Linked DNA regions of Homo sapiens: region 1 is linked to region 2. The links come from fine-mapping of genetic effects on gene expression. Tissue or cell type: whole blood. Region 2 holds a variant in brackets; the other region holds the start of a gene. All regions are shown on one strand. Distances are between the middles of the regions.

The links. PIP is the estimated chance that this variant, and not a neighbour inherited with it, causes the effect.
Region 1: TMEM250 starts here. The variant in region 2 is fine-mapped to the expression of TMEM250 in whole blood (TOPMed, PIP above 0.99).

What each region holds. Positions count from the first base shown.
Region 1 is chr9:136,115,758-136,123,816 of GRCh38, reverse strand. It overlaps TMEM250 (transmembrane protein 250), which reads left to right and starts at 4,942. Exons shown (of 2, transcript NM_152833.3): 1 at 4,942-5,332; 2 at 6,793-8,059. The coding sequence starts at 6,917. The coding sequence ends at 7,336. LOC107987142 (a long non-coding RNA gene) reads right to left here and starts at 6,025. Exons shown (of 2, transcript NR_165242.1): 1 at 5,915-6,025; 2 at 1-2,031. RefSeq lists enhancers at 3,540-4,114, 4,115-4,691, 5,845-6,420, 6,421-6,996 and silencers at 4,359-4,748, 4,779-5,828.
Region 2 is chr9:136,073,291-136,081,349 of GRCh38, reverse strand. The region is part of intron 1 of NACC2 (NACC family member 2); the gene reads left to right. Among named protein-coding and RNA genes, the nearest start is that of NACC2, 18 kb to the left of the region's middle. RefSeq lists enhancers at 1-611, 5,964-6,714. The variant A/G (reference allele first, on the strand shown) is at 4,809.

The DNA of each region.
Region 1 (8,059 bases), 42 kb before region 2:
CAGCTGAGAGGATGCTGGGCTCCTGTGTACTGCGTCTCCTTCCCTGGCCTCCTGTGTACTGCGTCTCCTTCCCTGGCCTCCTGGGTGGCTCAGCTCTGTGGGGCCACAGGCCCCACCCCACCCCAGAGACATGGAGAGGGGGTTTGTCATTGAACTTGAAGTCGCACTGGCTCTGTCCAACGACCAGTTAAAATGACTCTGGAGGTTTCCATTCTCTCCCATCCCTTCCCCTTCCCTGGCCCGAACCCTGCAAGGTGGCTGGTGTCAGAGATAGGACTCTCTAGGCCTCTACTGTCCTGGCAGCAAGAGCCACTCCCTGCCAGGACCCTGAAGTCAACCAGCTGGATAAAGTCCCCACAGTGACCCCATCCTTGGCCCCCAGCCCCAGCAAGTGGAGGGACAGAAGGACGGTACTGGAGGGGTTGGGGTGGGCTTCAACATGTCCCACAACCAGGGGTTGCATTCTTTCCACCCACTCAACCCACCTGCTCAGCACGCGCCCTGGGCCGGCCTCGGTGGGGAAAGTGCTCCTTCCAAGCAGGGGTTGGCTCGCTGTCCCTGCAAAGGTAGGACAACCCCAGGTGTTCCCAGCCGCACGGCCAGGGGTCCCGTCCAGCTTGGGGGCTCTGCGTCGGCAGCGAGCACCACATTCGGCCCCAACTTAAAGTCTCCCACAGACCTGGAGCCGCTGGGTCCCTCCTGCGCTTGGCGGCACCACAGGCACCAGCCCAGCAGATGGCGCCAAGCCACTGTCCACAGCGCAGCAGGAGGCCTGACGGGGACAGGGACGGGGACAGGGAGGCTATGGGGACCCCGGCTGGACCTCACACGTCAGGACAAACCCGTGACAAATCCCCAGCACACGGTGGTTCTGGGGTGACCGAGCTGTGGCCAGGCCGGGGGCGCAGGAAGGCGCAGAACCCGGGAGTGGGCAGAGGACCAGAAGCAGCTGCGGCCGGGGAGGAAATCGGTGTCCTGGGAAGCTACTTGCGCTGTGCACGCATGGACTGGGTCACGAGGCCAAAACCCACGGTGGCCACGGCAAGAGAGCCCTGGGCCAGCGGAGACACAGGCCACCAACAGGCGGGGGTGGCTTTGTGTGAGGAGGAAGGGGAGGCAGGAGACAGGGGACAGGGGGTGTGACGGAAGGGGCAGCCCAAGATTGAAGGCGCCTCCCAGAGATGGGGCATTCGAGCTGGGTCCTGAAGGGCGAGTAGGAGCTCGGAAGATGGAGAAGGGACAGAGAGAGAGAAAAGGCAACTGTAAAGAGGTCCAGGCTCCTGCCCTGTACCCTGGTTTCACAGGGAGGTAGGGGAGGCTGGCGGTTCTGGAGGGTCAGCCAGGGAAGGGCGACCCCCACTGTCTTCTGTGAAGGGTGCCAAGGGGTGGCCTCAAGGACAGCGTCCAGCCACGAACACAACCAAGATCAGAACCCACACCCGGGGCACAGACGCTTCCACGTGTGTGGAGCTTACAGATTCTCCAAACCGAAATTCAAGGCAGACAGATGGGACTTGCCCTATAACCCAAGGCACATGAAGCGTTTCCCCGACCATGGCGCCTCTGCTGAAGTCAAGTAATAAACAACTCCGCACTTAAATACTCATTCTCCTGGAAAGGGCAACCAGGGCTCCCCCTTACTGTCCCCTCACCCCAAACCCCAAGTGATATCCCAGCCTTGGAAGCAATGGGCAGCAGCAGCAGGGTTAGCCCGGGAAGCCACCCTCACAGCTAGAGTGGTCATCCCCATCCATGGGCGAGCAGAGACTGGCGGGGCAGGTGGCTGACCAGAGAGTGTGGAACCATCAACACAGACAAGGCGACAAGGGGACAGCTGCACCCTTTGGGAATTCAGGACACAGAACCCTCCTGTAGGGAGAAGCACGTGACTGCGGGCCCAGCCTGAGGTAGTGGCGAGTGGGGGCCCCAGCTTTCCTGGAGATTCTAATACAGGAACATGTTTCAGGACACTCGGGCTGACATGCACTTCTTTTTATTTGTCCAAATCCGGCTTTTTTTTGTTTGTTCATGCTGAAAAAATAAAATCAGAAAGTACAGAAATGTTAAAAAAACAGTAAAATATATTCATCTCTTTAATCCCACCACACATAGATCACCTCTGCAAACATTTATCTGCTTCCAGGACTTCACCCAGAAACGGACACCTAGGAGTACGTCTGTGCTGATGAGGGGTCACACTAGACGTGACTTTGTGAACCACTTTTTTTTTCTTTTTTTTCTTTGTTTTGCGACAGTCTCACTCCGTTGCCCAGGCTGGAGTGCAGTGGCGCAATCTCCGCTCACTGCAAGCTCCGCCTCCTGGGTTCATGCCATTCTCCTGCCTCAGCCTCCCCAGTAGCTGGGACTACAGGCGCCCGCCACCACGTCCAGCTATTTTTTTTTTTTTTTGTAGTTTTTTAGTAGAGACGGGGTTTCACTGTGTTAGCCAGGATGGTCTTGATCTCCTGACCTTGAGATCTGCCCACCTTGGCCTCCCAAAGTGCTGTGATTACAGGCGTGAGCCACCATGACCGGCCTATGAACCACTTTTGACTCAGCCTGGGGGACTGTCTTCTGGGCACAGCTGGCAGTGGGTTCACCTGACCCTGTTTAGCAGCAGAAGCTTCAAGGCCTGTTCCTAATTTTGTATTTTCTTAAGGAAGGTCCCTTAAACCACAGAAGCCTCAGGCCCCACAAAACCTGCATCCGCCCCTGGCTGCAGGACACTCCAGGGTCTGGATGCAGCCAGGGCCAGCCACAGCCTCACTAGCTGACCGCACCTTTAAAAGTACGCGCATTGGCAGCTTTGTTCTGACGGCCACACCCCCCAAGAGACCTCCTTGGCCTTTGGCTTGGGTGATGCTGACCCACATGGAGGGGTCTCTGGCCCAGCAGTCCTGGGACATCCCCTGTATGAAGACCATATGTCTGACATGGCACTTGCCACCCTTTCTGGTCATTTGCCCCTCAGCCTGTCCCTGTCACAAGATGACAGGTGCCTCGAGGGTGGGGGCTCTGCTGTGCCTGTGTCCTTGGTACCCAGAGCAGGGTAGCAGCGTGGGGGCAAGTGCAGGCACGCATGCTGTGCTTCTCTGGGCGGGTGCACAGTGGGAAGCAGGGGGTGTCTAATCCAGAGCTGGAGTCAGGGGACTGCAGGGCAGGGAGGACACGGGAAACCCACAGCAAGGAGCGGGGCTGTGGCTCTGCTCCTCCCATGGCACAGCCACCAGATGGGCCAGGTGTGAGCCCTGATCCATGGACATGCGACCACCCTCACCAGCACGCGAAAAGTCGAGTGACGGGTGACCACCTGCTTTACACGCCACCCTCTATCTGGCCACGGGCGCCATCTCACGGTGCCGGCGTCCCAGCACGAGCCACATGGGAGGGGAGAATTATCTTTGGTTAGTTTGTCTCTAATAGTCCTTAAAACAGAAGACAAAAAATGAAGACAGGCATCAAGATGCTATTATCTCAATGTTTATATATTTAAAATGTTTTATTTATTTTTGTGGAGGCCATGTTGCCAGCCAGGTCGCCCAGGCTAGTCTTAAAACTCCTGGGCACAAGAGATCTGAGGCCGGAATGACAGGTGTGAGCCACCACGCCCAGCCTTATCTCAATAGCTAAACGTGTGGATCTGCCTCACATCTGGAGAGGCAGAGAGGTGAGCCACCAACAGGACTATTGAGGAAGGAAGGAGACCTGTTTATTGATTTTAAGTTTTTTGTAGAGACAGGGGCCTCACTATGTTGCCCAGGCTGGTCTCAAACTTCTGGGGCAAGTGATCCCCCTGCCTTGGCCTCCCAAAGCGGTGGAATGACAGGCGTGAACTAGCGCTTCTTGCCTGACACGTTTCTTTCGGAATATTTGCCGCCAGCCATCGGTAAAGAAAACAGGCTCTTGGCCTTTTTTGCTGTGCTACCTCCTGGTGGCCTTTGCTCGTCCAGATGTTCCTCGAACTCCTGCTCATGTCGGGTAAAGGCGGCTCTCTCTCCTGTGGCGGGGATGGGGCCACAGTGGAGAAGGTAGCTGTGCCAGCCCTCAGGGCGGCCCTGGTCCAAAGGACAGGGGCCCAGGAGCCAGCTCGCCGTCCCGGGAGGCCTGCAGCCAATGACGGGCCTGGTGGGCAGGAGGGCCCAGCCCCCTTGTTCCAGTGCCTTGAATTTGAAGGGCCACCCACTTTACGGTCGCCCCAGGGGCTGCTGACCCTGCCTTCCCCTCCTACCCAGCAGCCACACCCAGGAGCGCTCCCCAACACATTCCTCGCTGGAAACCCCCAGGACAACCGCCAGCCTGTACGAACCAGGCGTGAGGACACTAACACAAGTCCCCTTCCTTCACTGGGGGGCGGCGGGGGGGCGGCCCTGGGGCTGCTGCTGGGCCTGCTCGTGCTCCGGGGCTGTCCCTACTTCGGCTGCCGACGTCGCCGCCGGCCCACCGGGCCTCGCAGCTACACACCCGATCCGTGCCGCCCGGGTCCGCGTGGCGTCAGCCGCCCCCACCCTTCCCCGCCCTCCTGGAGCCTGGGGGGCGCCCTCATTCCCGCCGCCGCCCTGTCCTCCCAGCCCCAGGCCGCGCAGGAGGCCTTCGCACACGGCCCCGCGAGGACCAGACCTGCTCCCGGTCCCTGGGCCGCCCACCCCCGCCGGGAAAGCGGCTTCCTCCGGGGCCCGGCCCCACCCCAGCGACGGCAGCAGCGCGCCGGGTCGCAGACACCTCAGTCCGGGGCCAGGACCACGGTCAAGCCCTCTGCTGGGGCCAAAGGACTGCTCCACGGAAGCGCGCCTGCGCACTGCCTCTCCACGGGATGCGGTAGCGCGTGCGCGGAGGCGCGGCCCAGGAACGGCAAGCGCAGGCGCAGAAGACCAGGCGCGGCACCGAGGGCGTTCGGGGGAGGGAACGCTACGGACTGCTCGCAGCGTGCGCACGCACGCACGCACGCACGCCCTCGGGAAGCGACGAGTCCGGGACGCCCAGCGCGGGCCCGGAGCAGGGGGAAGGGAAGTGCGGCTCGGTCGGCGCGGGTGGAGGGGGCGTGAGGCCGCCCTACGGTGGCCGTCGAGGGACGGCGCTACGGCTCCCACGCTAGGCCAAACGCCTCCGGCGGCCGCGCCCGAGAGCCCCTTCACCTGCAGGGCGACCCCAGCCGGCGACGCGTGAACCACGCCCTCAGCCGCCTTGCCAGCGCCCCCAGCCGCGCGCCCCAGCACCATGCGGCCGCCCTGCGCACGGAGCCCCGAGGGACAGGGGCACCCGCAGGCCCGGCCCCTAGCACCGCCGGCCGGCCCCGAGGTCCGGGACGCCGGCGCCGCCGCGGAGAGGGCACCGGGTGAGCTGCGGTCGGGGACCCGGCCTAGGCGGGGGCCGTCTCCAGGGCAACGCGCGGCGCGGGACCCGGAAGTGGCTCCGGCAGGGGCTCTGCAGCCAGGGGGCCCGGCGCGGCGCGGCGCAGGCCCGGTGCTCACGCGGAGTTGGCCGGGGCCCGTTGCGTCTCTGCGGCCCCGAGGAAACAGTCCTGGGTCCATGGGCCGGGCCGAGCGGGCGTCTGCAGAAACGCAGGGACCCGGATGGAGCCGCGGGCCGCGAGACCCTGCGGGGACACAGCTCCGCCGAGTCGCGTTTGAGTGGCACCGCCATGGCCGGGGTCCCGGCCGGGGCGAGCTCCAGGCCAAGGCCGGCCTTAAATAGGGCCGCTCTGGCCCCTGCACCCCGTGGAGGAGCCGGGCGGAGGGAGAGGGCGAGGTCGGGCCCCTGCGGGCACGGGAGGGTCAGGCGGCCCCGGCCCCTCCCTCCTCCGCCCTGGCCAGGTCCCCACGGCAGGGCCCCAGGCTGAATCTGAAGGCAGGCGAAGCTCTTGGCAACAGTCCCCTGTAATGTTACCAACTTTCCTGCTCAGATTTTATTTCCTGACCTTTGAGTTCATTCCGTCTACAGATTATTTCGGCAAGGTATAAACGGCCTTTACTAGGTGAAGCTGGAGAGCCAAATGCCGCCTCTGCTCTTTGCAGCCCAGTCTGTAAGGGCCGCTGCCAGGCCCCGGGCCGACCCCACTGTGCACGCCAGGCCCAGCCCCTTCCCTCCCACAGCTACCCACAAAGGCAGTGCTATTGGCACCCCCATTGGACAGAGCAGGAGCCGTCTTGGGGTCAGGTGACCTGCCCAAAGTCACTGCTAGGGAAGGACAGTGCCAGGGTTCAGGCCCAGCAAGGTGACCCCACGGCCCCCGAGCCGTCCATCTGGCACCCAGCAGGTTGCTGGAGTCACCTGCTCCCGCCGGGCTCGTTTTCGGTTCACCTGCGAGCCCTGGAGTCCCTTTTCCCGGCCCTGTGGTGGCTTCTTGCAGATGCCATTTAAGGGCTTGCATCAGCCCTGGGTCAGGCAGCCGCAGAAGACCAGGGCAGTAACGGGCAAACTGCCTAAGAGCAGAGTGTGGTCCAGCTAGTGGGGAGCTGCGAGGATCCTGCAGGAAAGAGCCACTCTTGCCCCTTCCCATCCGTTTTGGCATTGACCACTTCCGGGGGCCTCCCCTGGCCACTGTCCCCAAGGCCCCCTTTCCCCAGTGCTGCCCTAGAACAAGCACTTTGGCTTCCCCAGGTGGTGGGCCCCTTGGAAGTATCCTTGGGAGGGTTTGTGGAAAAGAGCCCAGGAGTGCCTGCAGATCCCGCCCTGGACTCCATTTTCCCGTAGTCCTGGTGCTGGAGTTTGTGTCCACTTTCGCCAGCTGATTGCCTGGGGAGGGATCCGCATGGTGTCCTCATACTGACGTGGGTTTTGCGGCTCTCCCCGCAGGCCGACGCCTCCCCCCAGGGTCAGCTGCGGGCTCCCAGGCCTAGGCGCCCATGACCCCTACGCCAACAGCCGCCTGGACACCGCCGCCGCCACTGCGACCTAGCGCCGCCGCCGCCGGGGCCCAATGCCGGTCATGCCCATTCCGCGGCGGGTGCGCTCCTTCCACGGCCCGCACACCACCTGCCTGCATGCGGCCTGCGGGCCCGTGCGCGCCTCCCACCTGGCCCGCACCAAGTACAACAACTTCGACGTGTACATCAAGACGCGCTGGCTGTACGGCTTCATCCGCTTCCTACTCTACTTTAGCTGCAGCCTGTTCACTGCGGCGCTCTGGGGTGCGCTGGCCGCCCTCTTCTGCCTACAGTACCTGGGCGTTCGCGTCCTGCTGCGCTTCCAGCGCAAGCTGTCGGTGCTGCTGCTGCTGCTGGGCCGCCGGCGCGTGGACTTCCGCCTGGTGAACGAGCTGCTCGTCTATGGCATCCACGTCACCATGCTGCTGGTCGGGGGCCTGGGCTGGTGCTTCATGGTCTTCGTGGACATGTGAGGGCCGTGGGTGCGAGCTTGATGTATCGTCCCGGCCTGTGGCTGTGTTCTCTCCATGGGTGGGGTCGGCCAGCGCCTTCCCTTCGCCCATCCCCCAGGCAGTCGCTGCTGCCCGGCGCCCACGGAGAGAAAAGAAAGGGCTGAGACTTCTGTGATGGGGGCGCGGACACCACCCCTAGGCTGGCTTCCTGGACCCACCCTCCCCGTATGCACTCTCAGGGGCAGCGCCCACCTGCCGGTGGCTCCTGCTCACATGTCTTCGGGTCGTACTGCGGGGTGGGCCCTCCGTTCCGCCTCTCTGTGGGCCTCTCTCCAGGACCACAGCTGCCAGGGACTTTAGACATCACCCTGGGAGGCCCCTGGACACAGAGGGCTGTGTGCCCAGGAGCAATTCCGGAGGGGGGCCCTCCTGGCTGCACAGCCCCTTCTGCGTGCCCTGGCCCCAGCCCCAGCCAACGGGACACGGAAGGCTCCCCTCGCTGACACACCACACTGCCACAAAGCTGCTTACTCTGCCCTGGGCCGCCTGAGGCCTGGCACTGCCCGCGGACCACCCTGTGTGTGTCATCCTGAGGGGCTGTGTGGGTCCTGAGTCCCCAGCCAGCCTTCAGGGTCCCCTTGGATTGTGTAGATGCAGTCTAGCGGGGGGCCGGAGAAGGGCTCAGGTGGGAGGGGCCTCAGCAGGCTCCCAGCTCAGGGGCTGGCCTGGGGGGAACCCTGGGAG
Region 2 (8,059 bases):
TGGCTTCATCTTGGTTGGGGGTGTGTGGTGTGCAGGTCGTTCCGGTTACTCTACAGTTCAAGCCCAGGCATGCTGACCCCTGCCCTGTCCTGCGGAGCCCCCAGTGCCCGTCGGGACTGAGTCCACCTGGTTCCTTCCCCTGGGTTTCCAGCGGCCTGGGTGGCTGGAGAGTCCCCGAGTGGCCACTGAGGGTCCGTTTGGTCTGGGCTTCCTCCTCTGGGAATGGTTTCCTGTGTTACGAGAAATATGGGAAACGCGCGTTTCTTCTCCCCGCAGCCGTTCGTGATCCGTGACCCTGGGCCCGTGGGGTTCTGGGATGAAAACTTCCTCCTCCATCACCTCTGTTAATCAGAATGTGCTTGGGGTGGGAGACAGCGGGAGGGGCTGCCACCTTGGACCTGTCCCAGGCCTGTGTCCCCCCGACCTACTCGAGCGGCTGGGGCTTGGCACCCTAGCACGCAGGGGCGGCTCTGCTGGGGGCCTGATGCAGCTGGCTGGAGTTTGCGCCGGGCACAGGCCGGCCTGTGGTCATCTGCCGTCTGCTCTCCCTGCATCCTCTGCAGTGACTCCGCTGGGGTCTGGGTGTGTGTCACGGCCCCCCGTCTCCACGTGTCTGGAGAGGAGGAGACCCCCAGCTAACCCACACTCCACGACCTCCAAATCAGATAAGCAAGAGCTCCGTGGAGTGTCCTTCCTGGGCTGATTCTGTGCGGTCTGTGGGGTGGGGGATGGTGTGCTGGCAGTAGCGTTGGAGTTTTTTTATTGGAGCAGGGTAGTGGGGAGATGGAGTTTCGCTGTTGTTACCCAGGCTGGAGTGCAGTGGCACGATCTCAGCACACAACCTCTGCCTCCCAGGTTGAAGCAATTCTCCTGTCTCAGCCTCCCGAGTAGCTGGGATTGCAGGCGTGCGCCACCACGCCCAGCTAATTTTGTATTTTTAATAGAGACGTTTTTAATACCCCACTGCAGTGGGCTGCTGGGCGGATTTTCCTAGAACCTGGGTTGGGTTTTGGATGCCCTGAGAGGTGGCATCCCATGTAGGGGCAGCGAAGGGGCCTGGGCTCAGAGAAGGAGAGCACAGAGATGGGTGCGGGGGCCCTGCTGGGATGAGGCTGTACAGGCTGGGGGTGCAGTACCGCTCTGGCACCATCCCTGGTGTGGCGTGGCTACAGGGCCCTGCCAGGAGGCCCTTGTGGTCAAACCGTTGGCTTTTGTGGGGCACAGTGGCATGGGCTTTGGCTGGCAGCCACGCCCGGGGTAGGGACTGTGTGTCTCTGCCAGCTGGGCCATGACTACAGTGGGTGGCCAAGGGTGTGGGCTATCAGGTCAGCCCCAGGCCTGGCCCAGGCAGCCCCATGGCCAGCAGAGCCCATCTGTAGCTCTCCAGGAGGGCCGCCTCTCCCTGGGGAACAGCTCCAAAAGCTTTCCTTGGGGAACAGGTGGCAGGGCTAGCGGCTCCTTCCACAGCACGGCTGTGGCCTGGCCCCTGGGGCCTTGGGGTCCTGGAAAGTTGAGACTTCCCCGGCTGCTGCCTGTCCTGGTGGCCTGAAATCTTACAGGCTTCAAGATTTCGTAACTTTCCTATTCCTAGTCGCAGAATGGGTAGTGGGAGGCCTGAGACCCATCTGGCTTCTGCAGCCACGCTCCAGGGCTCTGGTGACCCTGGAGTGCATTCGGGGAGTGCCGGCCACGGCAGGGCCCCAGGAAGGAGCTCTGGGGGGCCTCTGGCCTCTCTTCTGCCCTCGGTTGAGGGCCAAGTGGCCTTTCCACTCAGTGAGTCAGCCTGTTCCTTCGTGTCATTCTCAGCAGGCCATGGGGTGCCCATGCCTGCGGGTGAGGAGGGGCTTGCTGCCCCACCTGCTGGCGTCCAGCCTGTACAGCCTGGGGCCTGTCTGGAGATCCTGGTTCCTTGGCTGCACCTGCAGGGCCCCCGGAGTCCACGCATTGGCTTCTGCAGTTGGCATCCTGTGCTTGTAGGAGTGTCTCCTGCCTGGAAGCCAGAGGATGGCACCCCGTTCCATCAGGCCTGAAGGTGGCTGGGTGCCAGGCAGCCCTTCCTGGGTGTGGGACTCTGGGCAAGTGCCCTGCCTCTCCCTGGTCTCCCCCTCAGCTCAGAGAGTGCAGTTCCCACCCTGGGAGGATGTCTGCACCTTGCAGCCTCTTCAGCCCTTAGCCCTCTTGGCAAGAGCTCAAGCTTTCTCTTGTTAAGGACGGGACGCACAGACATACGTGAGTAGATTTCAGGTTACGTGCCCTAAACTAATACCGTGTGCACTTAAAAAAAAAAAAAAGAAGAAGCTATGATTGAAGTCAAATTAACATATTTACCTTCAGTGCTCCCTCGGGAACCGTTAGGGAATCGGAGAGGGGCGGCGGCGGCGCGGCATCATGCCGGCGACGGTGCTAAGGGCATCTGCTCCCCGTGGGGATGGGTGTGTGCTCCTGAGTTTGCCTTGGCTTCCCCTGCTTACCCACAAGGTCGCCTGGACAAGGGGCGAGAGGCCCTGCCCTGAGAGCCTCAGTTCCTGGAGGGGACCACGCTGGGGGTGCTTACTGGGGACCAGGATGCGGCGGTGGCTGTGGTGCCACACTCGTGATGACAGCCCTGCCTGAGGGGCTCGCTTTGCTCAGCTCTGATGTGGCTGAGATTCAGGTGCCTGACCTGTCCCCCAGCCATTCCCACGCCCCTTTCTGTCCCGATGTCGGGGCTGGGCTGGCCCCTCTTGCCTCGCACAGGTTTATGGCCTAGGAGTACATTCCCCTGGAGTCCCGTCTATGCATCCAGGTACGGTTCCAGGGCCAGTGAGCGGGCCACGTCCCACCTCCAAGCCTCAGTTTTCTCATCTGTACAGTAGGGTAATGGTATTTCTCCTGCGCTTACTTTAAGGATTAAATGGAAAAACCTGTATTAAGGATTGCCATTTAAAGATTAAATGGAAAAGCCTGGGCCTTTAGTTCCTGAAATGAGAGAGCCAGAATTATTTGGAGAACCTGCCCCCAGATGTGCCTGTCCCCCTCATGAATTCTGCATTCCGAGGGACTGAGCTTCGTGGAATTCTGGCGTCTTCTGGCCTGCAGGCGAGTGGGGCTGGCCACAAGGTTGCGGGGGGTGGGGGTCCTGGGGACCCCTGCCAGGTGGTGGGTATGCACCCGGCCTTGGGGATGAGGGTTTGAGTGGGTGCCTGGTCCATCCCACTCTCTACCACTGTGTCTGTAAACTCGTGCATGGATTGTTTAAAGATAGTACGGCAAACCTCGTGATTATAAAAGTATGATTGGGCCGGACGCGGTGGCTCATGCCTATAATCCCAGCACTTTGGGAGGCCGAGGCGGGTGGATCACGAGGTCAGGAGTTTGAGACCAGCCTGGCTAACATGGTGAAACCCCGTCTCTACTAAAAAGAAGTACAAAAAAACCCAAAACAAAACTATGATTGGACTGATATTATTTACGTGGTTTTCACTCCCAAAGGCACACCTTTGCGTATAAAGCACAAGTCAGTATTCATCACTGATTCCTTATTCACTTTTCAAACTACTTTCACTTACCTTTTATTACTTTATAAATAATTTTAAGCACAATTTTGTTGCCCCCTTGCCTGCTCCCCGGTGTGGGGGTGGCCAGAGTCCTTGGGGTCCCCTCGCATTTCCCGGGTGACCACACAGCTGCCCCCTGCTCAGGTGTCACCGCCTGGGGACCTTCTCCTCTGTGAAGGGCCTGTTCTGGGCTCTTGCCCCTCCCTCCTCTGTGCGTTTCCCTTTTCTTGATGGATTTGTAGAATTTGTAGAATTCTTTCCATACTCTGACCACACGCCCTTTGCTGAAGATACATATGTTGCAAAGGTCTGTCCTTCTCGGCTTGTTTTTTCTCTTAGTGTTGGTCTTTATTTTTCAATATTTTAATGAAGCACGACTTATCAACAATGTCCTTTGTGCCCTGTTAGGGTTTTTGTTGTTTGTTTGTTTGTTTTGCCAAAGGCCATGTTTCTCTTCTGCTTTTTTTGTTTTGTTTTGTTTTTTGAGACGGAGTCTTGCTCTGTCGCCCAGGCTGGAGTGCAATGGCGCAATCTTGGCTCACTGCAACCTCCACCTCCGGGTTCAAGCAATTCTCCTGCCTCAGCCTCCCAAGTGGCTGGGACTACAGGCGCCCGCCACCACGCCCAGCTAATTTTTGTTTGTTTTTTTCTCTGTCACCCAGGCTGGAGTGTAGTGGCGCAATCTCGGCTCACTGCAACCTCCACCTCCGGGTTCAAGCGATTCTCCTGCCTCAGCCTCCCAAGTGGCTGGGACTACAGGCGCCCGCCACCACACCCGGCTATTTTATTTATTTATTTATTTATTTTTGAGACAGAGTCTCGCTCTGTCGCCCAGGCTGGAGTGCAGTGGCGCGATCTCGGCTCACTGCAGGCCCTGCCTCCTGGGTTCACGCCATTCTCCGCCTAGTCCCAAGTAGCTGGGACTACAGGCGCCCGCCACCACGCCCGGCTAATTTTTTTTGTATTTTTAGTAGAGAAGGGGTTTCACCGTGTTAGCCAGGATGGTCTCGATCTCCTGACCTCATGATCCACCCACCTCAGCCTCCCAAAGTGCTGAGATTACAGGCATGAGCCACCACCAGGCCAATACATTTTTTAAAAATTGTAGTCAAATATACACAACATGAAATTCACCATTTTAACCATTTTTTAAGCGCACAGTTCAGTGGCAGTAAGAACATTCCCATGGCTGTCAACCCTCACCTCTGTTTGCAGAACGTTTTCATCATCCCTGACCGAAACTGCACCCATTGAACACCAACTCCCCTCCGC[A/G]GTCCCCCAGCCCCTGGAAACCTCCGTTCTGCTTCCTGTCTCTGAACTGTCCTGCTCTGTGCCCGCGTGTGAGTGGAACCCCGTGGCGTTGTCTGTGTGTGCCTGGTGGCTTTCACTCGGCATAGTGTCTTTGAGGTTCACCGGGCTGGGGGGTGCATCAGAATTTCATTTCATTTTTGTCGTGGTATGGGCAGGAAACCTGGCTCAGAGAACATTTGAGGAACTGGGTGTTTAGAGTCACTGAGGAGAGGAGGCTGGATAGATTGTTGGGTTAGTTACAGCACTTCTTCGAGTTCCGCAGGGCCGGGAAACGCTGCCCCTTGGGGTTCTCTTTGCTACTGGATGGAAATCATTTGCTTTTCTTTTGGTTGCATATAGGAGACTTAGGATGTCACGGGGTATGGGGTGTCATCACTACTGAGTTGCAAATCAGGCAGAGGCCGCGAAGGGTGCCTGTTTACTTTATTTCCAAGTTTTCGATGACTGTTCTTTGCAGGATCTCTTCGTGACCACACGTAACCTTCATGCAGGGCTTTGAGAAGCGGGTGTCTCGGAGTTTTGTCACAGATGCAGCAGAGGAGTGGGCAGCAGCCCCAGGGCCACAGGCACTGAGCACATGGAGGGCTGCGGGGCTGCTCCTGGGCGCTTTGTAGGAAAGCCTGGGTTCCGTTTTCAGCAGCCTCTCACTCCAGAGGAGATGACTTTGCTCTTATTGAATCTTGTGTCCCGAGCCTCAGAGCCCAAACCCAAGACCCCTGTCTCTGAGGTTTCACCGACAGGGCCTGTGGGTGTTGGGTGGGTCTCCTCCCCTGGGCGCAGTCTGCACGGGGGTGTCCTCCCCGCGTGTGGAAGACCGGGCACAGGGAGCTCAGGACAGCATCAGCACAGGTTTCCTGAGGGGGCCCTGCAGGCTCTGCTCCCGCAGGACCTGCGACCCCGAACCCTGAATGTGGGCCTATGCCCGATAAAAGAAGATGCGTCCTCAGGCACGACAGCCTGGGCTTGGCCCCAGCTGCGCGATCTGTTTGAGAAACTGTACCGCGATGTAGGAGACGGCAGGTTCACACGGAGCCGCTGCCGACGTCTACGAAAGGGAAACAGGCTCGGGGAGACATTCGCCTCCGAGTTCCAAGCCCGGGGAGAGTGGACACCCTGTAATGAGCGCTTCAGTCAGTTCGCAGCAGCCAGCCTCGGGGGAGCTAGGGAGGGCTTTCCCCCCAAGTATCCCAGCCAGGCGGCCGCAGCCAGCTCTCCCTCATCCCGGTCAGTGCCGGACTGGACCAGAATGTGTCCTGGAGTCCTGGCCACCTCCCTGGTGCCATGTGACAGCTGTCTGAGGCCAAGTCTGTGTGTGGGGGGCGTTGCAGCCTGCTGCACCCACACCTGGGGCTCCCCACTTCCTGGCCTGCCGCTTTGAGGGAGCAGAAGCCGCCATTGAGGACAAGGTGGAATCGGCTCATTTCACGCAGAACCAAGAGCGTCGGCCTGGAGGAGGTCACGTCCTCTACTGGGCCTCACGTCACTGTTTCGTGAGGATCCGATTGCTGTTCCCCCAGCCCCATACGCGACAGTGAGTGGGGGACAGAGCTCCCGGGCTCCCAGAAGGAGGCCGTGCGAGAACCCATTCCCGCCAGCATCCCCCGGCCCTGCCGACTCCGCCTCGGCTGGGAAGGCCACGCTTCCTGCCGCTCTGTGTGAGGTGTAGACGCCGAGGCTGAGTGATACATCCCCGAGCCCCGCAGGTGAGCTGGGAACAGAATGTGACCACCGACATGGGCCCTCTGGGAGTCACAGGGGATGGTCGTTCGGAAGGTCCAGCTTCATCTGTCGGTGCAGTTTAGGGTGTGACTTGGTGGAGGCACGGTCAGTATTGAGTCAATGTTGAACCAGAGATAGGTTCCTTGAGGAAGGCAGGCAGCCTTGCTGTGACAGAACGAGGAATGGTTTTGACCTGTCCGTCTGTGTTAATTGAAGGGATGATACATAATTTTAAATAACCTCAGAAATTATTAACATCTTTATAAAGAACCTTAATGTTTCTGGAATGAAGAACTTTGTTTTCTTTTTCTTCTTTTTTCTTTTTTTTTTTGAGACGGAGTCTTGCTCTGTCGCCCGGGCTGGAGTGCAGTGGCACAACCTCGGCTCACTGCAAGCTCCGCCTCCCGGGTTCACTCCATTCTCCTGCCTCAGCCTCCCGAGTAGCTGGGACTACAGGCGCCCACCACCATGCCCGGCTAATTTTTTTGTATTTTATTAGTAGAGACGGGGTTTCACCGTGTTAGCCAGGATGGTCTGGATCTCCTGACCTCGTGATCTGCCCTCCTCGGCCTCCCAAAGTGCTGGGATTACAGGCATGAGCCACCGCGCCTGGCCATGCCTGGCTAATTTTTTAACAAATTATTTGTGGAGACTATAATCTTACCATCTCTCCTGGTCTCTCACTCCTGGACTCAAGTGATCCTTCTGCTTCAGCCTCCCAAAGTGCTGGGATTCCAGGCATGAGCCACTGTGCCCGGCCAAGATCTTAATTTTTTTAAAAAAATAGTCAAGGACATGACGGAGTCTGTGCAAATCCCTGTTGGTTACTTCGGTGAGAGCCAGGGTCTGCTTTCAGGGCAGAGGGAAGGATCACCGCTTACTGCTGACCCTGCTTCTGGGCAGACCAGATACTCCAAGACCAGGCAGCATTTTAGCAGACAGAACACCAAATCCTGCTTGGACGCAAATGCAGTACTTGGCAGTAGAGGATGCATAAGCACCTTTAAAACAATTAGGAATAGACCCATTGAAACTGAGCAAATTGTGCCAAAATTGTAGCACACACGCAGCTGCTTTTCATACTCCTTATTTCCAGGTATTATGAACCGAGGGAAATCAAGTCGACTTTCTGCAAACATTCTTGGGTTGTCCATACATCCACTGGAGTCTTTTGTCTTTTCCTGTTCTCTTTGGCATTCGAGACCAATTGTGCATTTCACTTTGAGACAAGCGCCTCTTCTCCCCTGATGGGCAGGACTATACTCTGATACAGCTGGATCCACGCTCACACCCCCTGTCCACTGCAGCTCCTACTGGGGTCCTCATTTTTTATTTTTTATTAAAAATTTTTTTTTTGAGACAGTCTTGCTCTGTCACCCAGGCTGGAGTGCAGCGGTAAGACCACAGCTCACTGCAGCCTTCACCTCCTAGGCTCAAGCGATCCTCCCACCTCAGTCTCCCAAGTAGCTGGGACCACAGGTGCGCTCCACCAT